Regions from separate parts of the Homo sapiens genome. Here region 1 is linked to region 2. The links come from fine-mapping of genetic effects on gene expression. A gene starts in region 2. The other region holds a variant in brackets. All regions are shown on one strand. Distances are between the middles of the regions. Region 1 overlaps STRBP (spermatid perinuclear RNA binding protein). Region 2 holds the start of ZBTB6 (zinc finger and BTB domain containing 6).

Region 1 (4,394 bases), 330 kb before region 2:
ATAAGATGGTTATAGTCACTTTTGAAACAGTATTTTGGCTTACAAAGCTTTTTTGAGGGGAAAAAATTTGTTTGTATTGGCAGTCAGCCAATATTTTATAAGCTACAATTTTCCTTTGAATAGCTGGTGGTTTGTAGCTCCATAATTTGTGGTTCTTCTGAACTTGTAAAAAGATTACACATATTTAAAAATGGCCTTATCACTTTAATGTTTTAAGCAATACACAACTGTCAAATTCTGTTATGTTATAGTATTGTTGTTTTACTTAATTTTCCTGGGCTGAGAATCTAACTTAATAATTTATACAGTATAATTGGAATCTCATCCCCCTAAACCCCAATGAAACTCCAAACAAACCTAAAAACCAAAAACTACATTAGTAATGTAACAGGCACTGTTAAAGGCAAAGGAAATGTGAGCGACTCTACATCGGTCTGCCAAAATCCTTGCAGTATTCATGCTAGTCCATTATTTAGCCACTGCTGCCCGGATGTGTTGAATTATGTGGTATGTGGGTTTGTTTGGGTGTATATGGTGTTCTTATGTGACATTTAGTTTTAAATTAAGGTTTTTGTGATGCTGTCAATGTTGCCTTTTCACATGCAGTTGGAAAAGAATACTTCATTCGAAATGTTTCATGTTCTGTACCTTGTTCTCCTGGTTTGTCTGTGGGTAGTTAAATTTGTGAAAGTCACGAGGTTATTTTAAATCTTTCCTTTTGATTTTAGGTTAAGTCTAAAATGGAATATTGTAACCTTTTGGCTTGAGAGATTTTGGAAAGCCAGATTAATATATCCATTTTTGTACTTACAGAAGTTTCACAGATAAAGGTGAACCTACCATTCAATTTCAGACTCAAACTCCATTGCCGAGTAGGAACGTTATTTAAAAATAAACCATAATGAACTATTGTCTTTCTTGGGCTAAATCCTTTTGTTTCTGGAAGCTGAGTGAGGTTTGGGTTAAAGTTTCCATTTATCAGTGGGATAATTTTTGTGGCTAAGATTTTAGTGAATTGTTAACAGCCAGATCCTTAACAACTGTTAATAATCTTATTAACATGTTAGTAAAGGTTGCTTTTAAAAAGACTCTCTAGCTCTGGAGGATACTGATTCTCATTCTTGATTGAACGTTAGAATTACCTGAGAGTTAAAAGAAATACAGATGCTTGAGGCCGGACGTGGTGGCTCACGCCTGTAATCCCAGCACTTTGAGAGGCTGAGGAGGGCGGATCACGAGTTCAGGAGATCGAGACCATCCTGGCTAACACAGTGAAACCCCATCTCTACTAAAAATACAAAAACATTAGCTGGGTGTGGTGGCAGCTCCCAGCTACTCAGGAGGCTGAGACAGGAGAATGGTGTGAACCGGGGAGGCGGAGCTTGCAGTGAGCCGAGATCGTGCCACTGCACTCCAGCCTGGGCGACTGAGCGAGACAACGTCTCAAACAAACAAACAAACAAAAACAACAAAAAAAAGAAATACAGATGCTTGGATTTCACCTTGAGGATTCTAATTTAATTGGTTTGGGATGCTACCTAAGCATCTGGATTTTTAGAGGTAATTCCAGTGTGCATATGAGGCTTAGAACTCCCGCTCTGGGAAATTTGTTAGCCCACTCAAGGGGAAAAATTTGGTTTTAGAGAATATATCTTTACCTTTGGAGTTTATAAAACTTTTTTTTTGAGGTAGTTGTGGATTCACATGCTGTTGTAGGAAATAATGTACTGAGTAATCCATCTCTGTAATTTTATCATTTCAAGAATTTTATGTAAATGAAGTAATATAGTATGTAAACTTTTCAGCTTGGCTTTTTCACTCAGGCTAATTCCTTTGAGATCCATCCAAGTTGTTGCATGTGTCAGTAGTTTGTTCCTTTTTATAGTTAAGTAGTATTCCATGGTAGGTA[G/A]GGAAGTATCACAGTTTAGTCATTCACCTGTTGAAGGACATTTGGATTGTTTCCATATTGGCTATTACTGTTAAAGCTGCTGTGAACATTTGTGGATGGGCTTTTGAATGGTCATAATTTTCCATTTCTTTGGGATAAATGCCCAAGAGTACAATTGCTGGGTTATGTGATAAATGCATTTTTAGTTTTCTCAGATAGTGCTGTACTTTTTCTGAGTGGCTGTATCACTTTACATTCCCACCAGCAGTGTATGTGTGATCCAGTTTCTCTACATCTTTGCCAGCGTTTGACATCAATACTATTTTTTGAGAAAGATTAGTAGACTTCATTGGAGCAGTTTTAGGTTTACAGAAAGTTGGGCAGATAATTCAGAGAGTTCCCATATACCTTCTTCCCTCATGACTTTCCCCTTTTATTAACATCTGTTACCATGGTAAATTTGTGAAAATTGTTGAACAATAATGCAGTATTAATGCATTATTATTAACTAGTCTATGGCTTATATTAGGACTCTGTGACTTGTACAGGTCTGTGGGTTTTGACAACAAATGTAAAATGACATGTGTCCACTGTTACAGTATCATACAGAATAGTTTTACTGCCCTAAAAATCTGTTCTCTACCTGTTCAGCCCTCCTGTACCCCCAGTTCGTGGCAACCACTGATCCTTTTACTGTTAACATAGTTTTGCCTTTTCCAGAATGTCATATAGTTGAAAGCATATAGTATCTGACCTTTTCACACTGGCTTCTTTTGCTAGGCTATATGCATTTAAGGTTTCTCCATGTCTTTACATGGCTTGATAACTCTTACTCTCCCCCCATCTCTCTTTATTGCTGAATAATATCCTATAGTGGATGAACCACAGTATTCAACTGTGATTATATCACAATTTGTTTATCCATTCACCTATTGAAAAACATCTTGGTTGTTCCCAGTTTTTGGAAATTATGAACAGAACTGCTATAAACATTTGTGTGTGGACTTTTGTGTGGATGTAAGTTTTCAGATCATTTAGATAAATATCTAGGAGCACAATTCCTATTGTATTGTGTTGTAAGACTACATTTAGCCTTGTGAGAAACTTCTAAACTTTTCCAAAGTACCATTTTACATTTCCCTCAGCAATGAATTATTTTTTATTTTAACCATTCCGATACTTATGTAGTAATTCTTTTCATTATGATTGGATTTGCATGTCTCTGGATAATGATTTTGAATATGTTTTCATATGCTTATTTGCCATCTGCTTTTCAGTGAAATGTTTGTTCATGTTTTTGCCCATTTTCTAATTGGATTCTTGTTTTTTAATTTTTATTTGTTTTAACTGTTGAGTTTTGAGGGTTCTTTATATATTCTAGTTAGAAGTCCTTTATTGGGTATGTGGTTTGTAATTATTTTCTCCTAGGCTGTAGCTTGTCTTTATATCCTCTTAATTGTGTCTTTCATAGAACAAAAATTAATTTTGACCAAGTCTAGTTTATCAGGTTTTCCTTTTACGAATCTTGCTTTTGCAAGAACTCTTCAACTAGCCCTGTGCCCCAAAGATTTTTTCCTAAAAGTGTGTTTATTTCTGAAAGTTTTATAGTTTTAAGTCTGTGATTCATTTCAAATTAGGTTTTGTGTAAGGTGTGAAGTTTAGATGAAAGCTCTATTTTTCTTTTTTTTTTTTTTTTTTTGTCTTATTGATGTCTAATTCCTCTAGCTGCATTTGTTGAAAGGGCTATCCTTCTTCCATTTAATTGCTTTGCATTTTTCTAAGAAATTAGTTGGACATGTTTGTGTGGATCTGTTTTTGGCTTCTCTGTTCTACTCCATCGATCTCTGTGTCTGTCCGTCTACCAATACCACGCAATCTTGATTACTGTGGCTATATAATAAGTCTTTAAATTTGGTAGAATTTCTCCAATTTTATTATTTTAAAAATTGTTTTAGCTTTTCTTGGTCTTGTGTCTTTCCATGTAAGTTTTAGAATAAGTTTGGTTATGTCTATAAAAATCCTTGGTAAAAATTTTATTACATCTATAGATAAATTTGGGAAGAATTGACATTTTTACTGTGGAGTGTCTCTACCATTGGATTTTAATAGATTGGAATGAGACTAGAAAGAAGTAGTTCTGTAGAGAAAATACTCAAATTACTTAAATTGTATGGAGAGAATTCTTTGTAATTAGCAAAATGTTAAACTTTTTAGCCCTCCCTCCCTTTTTGGTGTTAAAAACCATAATTAATAGAGCTGTGGAAGTGGAAGCAATTTCATTTCAATTCTGTTTATTTATTTATTTGAGACAGGGTCTCACTCTGTCACCCAGGCGGGAGTGCAGTGGTGTGATCTCTACTTAGTGCAACCTTTTCCTCCTGGGTTCAAGCGATTCTCCTGCCTCAGCCTCCTGAGTAGCTGTGACTACAGGTACATGTCACCATGCCCAGCTAATTTTTTGTATTTTTAGTAGAGACGGGGTTTTGCCATGTTGGCCAGGCTGGTC
Region 2 (4,394 bases):
ATTAAGCATGCTGAGCTTGCCTTCAGAAAAAAATACGAATTAATCAGAAAGTTGTTACTAGATTCATTTACTTCCACGAGAACCTGTTGCTGGAGGAGCAGAGCAACTGCCTTTAAGAATTGGTTCAGAGGCGGCCGGGCGCGGTGGCTCACGCCTGTAATCCCAGCACTTTGGGAGGCCGAGGCGGGTGGATCACAAGGTCAGGAGATCGAGACCATCCTGGCTAACACGGTGAAACCCCGTCTCTACTAAAAATACAAAAAATTAGCCGGGCCTGGTGGCAGGGCATTAGTCCCAGCTACTCGGGAGGCTGAGGCAGGAGAATGGCGTGAACCCGAGAGGCGGAGCTTGCAGTGAGCCAAGATCGCACCACTGCACTCCAGTCTGGGCGACAGAGCGAGACTTTGTCTCAAAAAAAAAAAAAAAAAAAAAAAAAAAGGAATAGAATTGGTGCAGAGGCCGGGCGCGGCGGCTCATGCCTGTAATCCCAGCACTTTGGGAGGCCAAGGCGGGTGGATCACCTGAGGTCAGGAGTTCGAGACCGGCCTGGCCAACATGGTGAAACCCCGTCTCTACCAAAAATACAAAAAGTAGCTGGGTGTGGTGGCAGGCACCTGTAATCCCAGCTACTCGGGAGGCTGAGGCAGGAGAATTGCTTGAACCTGCTAGGCGGAGGTTGCGGTAGGCCGAGATCGTGCCACTGCACTCCAGCCTGGACCACAGAGTGAGACTCTGTCTCAAAAAAAAAAGAAAAAGAATTTCTTCAGTCATATCTTCATTCAGCACAAATACTTGATGCCTACCAAGTGCTAGACTTCGAGAATACAAAGATCAGTAAGCCACTGTCCTAAATAACTCTGCCTAGATGAGGCACAAATTAATACAGGCGTGTTAAGTGCAATAATGAAGGCAGGAAAAGGGATTACAGGTTTCAAACTGGGAACCAATTATCTTAGGGCAGTTCAGGATGGCTTCAGGATGATGAGATTTATAAACGGGTTCTTTAAAGATACGTTGGGGAAGGCCGGGCTCGGTGGCTCACGCCTGTAATCCCAGCACTTTGGGAGGCCAAGGCGGGCGGATCACGAGGTCAGGAGATCGAGACCATCCTGGCTAACACGGTGAAACCCCGTCTCTACTAAAAATACAAAAAAAAAAAAATTAGCCAGGCGAAGTGGCGGGCACCTGAAGTCCCAGCTTACTCGGGAGGCTGAGGCAGGAGAATGGCGTGAACCCAGGAGGCGGAGCTTGCAGTGAGCCGAGATCCTGCCGCTGCACTCCAGCCTGGGCGACAGAGAGAGACTCCGTCTCAAAAAAAAAAAAAAAAAGCCTGGGGAAAAGGCTAGGGCACGTCAGAGGAAACAGCTGGGCCAAAAGTTTTGGGATGGAGGAACGCATTTAAGTGTGAAGCTAGATCCAGAGGTTGGGGCCATCTCCTGATGGGGCATTATCTAGGCAATCTCGAATACGGATCTTTATGATAGTTTCTGCTCTGCCACCTTTCAAGTTGTAGGTGGCCCCAATAAGGAGAGGAATCGTCCCAGAATAATCCATAAAAGGTCTGGTTACTCTGACAGACGTGCCGTAACCGAACCTCAAACCCCGTCTCCAATTCGGATGTTCAGGAGGACTCACAAAAGGAAATGGCTCGGCTGGGCGCGGTGGCTCAACCCGGTAATCCCAGCATTTAGGGAGGCCGAGGCGGGCGGATCTCCTGAGGTCAGGAGTTCGATACCAGCCTAGCCAACATGGTGAAACCCCGTCTCTACTAAAAATACAAAAATGAGCCGGGCGTGGTGGCGGGCGCCTGTAATCTCAGCTACTTGGGAGGCTGCGGAGCGAGAGTCGCTTGAACCCGGGAGGCGAAGGTTGCAGTGAGCCGAAATCGCGCCATTGCACTCCAGCCTGGGCAACAAGAGCGAAACTCCGTCTTAAAAAAAAAAAGGGATGGTGGGGGAAAACGGCTCGAGTGCCGAAACTGGGACAAGAGAGATGGGGCTTGCCGGCATTCAGGAGCCTTTCTGTCATTCCAAGAGGGGGGAAGTGAGGAAGGAAGACCGTCTCAGAATGTCCTTCCGGGGCGCCTAGAGGGCCCCAGTAAAGAATAAAGCTGGTTGGCACCGGATGTGTTTTCTTCCAGGCTAAGTCCATCTTCCGGCTTGGGCAGACGCTGCCGCGGAATCCTTGACTCTAGTTTTCTGAGTCGGTGAGTGAGTGCAAAGTAGATTCCTCAGGTGGAGGGTGCCTGAGGAAGAGGAGGAGGAGGAGGAGGACAGCTGGGCTCGGCCCCGGAGTGGCTAATCTTGTGCTGCAACCACTGGGCCGACAGGGCCTTGGCCCTTCGCAGGGTTGCCTCCAGAATACCTGTGTGCTGAACCTGGCATCCGGTTTCAGTTCAGCAGATGTTCCCTGAGCTCCTCCTGCTCTGTGTGGGCCCCTGAGCTCGGTGCAGGAACACAGATGCATCAGGCACCATCTCGCGGTGCTCAGAGAGCAGCTGACTCTCTCTGGTTGAAACGGGAGGTGGAGTCATATTAGTTTTACTTGATTTGGGCTTAAAGGAGCCTAATCACTAGCTGAAAAAAGGAACTGGAAACGCGAATGTAAGAAATGTGTATTCGTGTCTTTTTGTCTGGGTAATGATGGAAAAATTTAGTATTGAACGAGGTTCGAGTATGAAAAAGAGAATAGAAGGTGATAAAGCCATAAAGATGGGTTAGAGCCAAATCGTGATGGGTCTCGTATTCTTTCCTAAGAAATCTGGACTGTCCCGGAGGTAGAGAAGAACGATAGAAGATTTAAAGCAGAAAAGGGAAATTAAAAATAAAATAAAATAAGGGTTGTTAATCCTGGTGGCACTCAGGCGGGTAATCTGGCATACAGAAGAGTGTGGTATAAAGAAGACCTGTTGGAAGACATTGCAGTTGTCCAGGTGAACCGGAAGGAGGACCTGTTGTAGTGGTGGGGAGTAGGAAGTTTGGAGATTACGTTAAAGTTGCTAATTGGATATATTATGTTAAATCAACTTTTTGGTGGTCACAGTGCTTATATTGGATATTCAAAATTGATAGATTGTTCTTGACCACAAGGCACACAACATTTAGCAAAAGAAACAAGCTAGAAACTGTTCACTACAATTCATTGTAATGAATGTTGTAACAAAGTTATGAAAAATGTGCTATGAGATCATAGAGAAGTGCATTATAAAGTTCTCGTTTTGAGATGGTGGCATAAAGGTTCATAACACCTACATTAGACTTTGAGTCTTCTTCTTCCTAATTCAGGTTTGGGGTTTTTCGTTTGTTTTCACCATTACAGCATGGGAAAGCATTCCCTATCCTTATTACATCAATGTTTGTGTTTTATTTTGCTTAGATTGTGATCATGGCTGCTGAGTCTGATGTTCTGCATTTCCAGTTTGAACAGCAAGGAGATGTGGTCTTGCAGAAAATGAATCTTTTGAGACAGCAGAATTTATTTTGTGATGTATCAATTTACATTAATGACACTGAGTTCCAGGGGCACAAGGTGATTTTGGCTGCTTGCTCCACTTTTATGAGAGATCAGTTTTTACTCACACAGTCAAAACATGTCAGAATCACCATCTTACAGAGTGCAGAAGTTGGCAGAAAATTGTTACTGTCTTGCTATACTGGAGCACTTGAAGTTAAAAGGAAAGAGCTTTTGAAATACTTGACTGCTGCCAGTTACCTTCAGATGGTTCACATTGTGGAAAAGTGCACAGAAGCTTTGTCAAAGTATCTGGAAATTGATCTTTCTATGAAAAACAACAACCAACACACTGACCTGTGTCAGTCTTCTGATCCTGATGTTAAGAATGAAGATGAAAATTCTGATAAAGACTGTGAGATAATTGAAATTTCAGAAGATAGTCCTGTAAACATAGATTTCCATGTTAAAGAAGAGGAAAGCAATGCTTTGCAGTCTACAGTAGAGAGTCTGACATCAGAGAGAAAGGAAATGAAGTCACCAGAGCTGTCTACAGTAGACATAGGTTTTAAAGACAATGAAATTTGTATCCTTCATGTAGAATCCATCAGTACAGCTGGTGTCGAAAATGGGCAGTTTTCACAGCCTTGTACCTCTTCAAAAGCAAGCATGTATTTCTCTGAAACACAGCATTCATTGATCAATTCTACAGTTGAGAGCAGAGTGGCTGAAGTTCCTGGGAATCAAGATCAGGGCTTATTTTGTGAGAATACTGAAGGAAGTTATGGTACAGTGAGTGAGATTCAGAATCTGGAGGAAGGTTATTCACTGAGGCACCAGTGCCCCAGGTGTCCTCGAGGCTTTCTTCATGTTGAAAACTATCTGCGCCACCTTAAAATGCATAAACTATTCTTATGCTTACAGTGCGGAAAAACATTTACACA

The links. PIP is the estimated chance that this variant, and not a neighbour inherited with it, causes the effect.
Region 1: its variant is the best candidate, but not a certain one, in a credible set for the expression of ZBTB6 in whole blood (INTERVAL, PIP 0.56).

Annotation. Positions count from the first base shown.
Region 1 is chr9:123,242,459-123,246,852 of GRCh38, reverse strand. All of the region lies in intron 1 of STRBP (spermatid perinuclear RNA binding protein), which reads left to right. Among named protein-coding and RNA genes, the nearest start is that of STRBP, 24 kb to the left of the region's middle. The variant G/A (reference allele first, on the strand shown) is at 1,910.
Region 2 is chr9:122,911,063-122,915,456 of GRCh38, reverse strand. ZBTB6 (zinc finger and BTB domain containing 6) reads left to right here and starts at 2,134. Exons shown (of 2, transcript NM_006626.6): 1 at 2,134-2,206; 2 at 3,376-4,394. The coding sequence starts at 3,385. RefSeq lists enhancers at 1-601, 2,070-2,299, 2,310-2,419.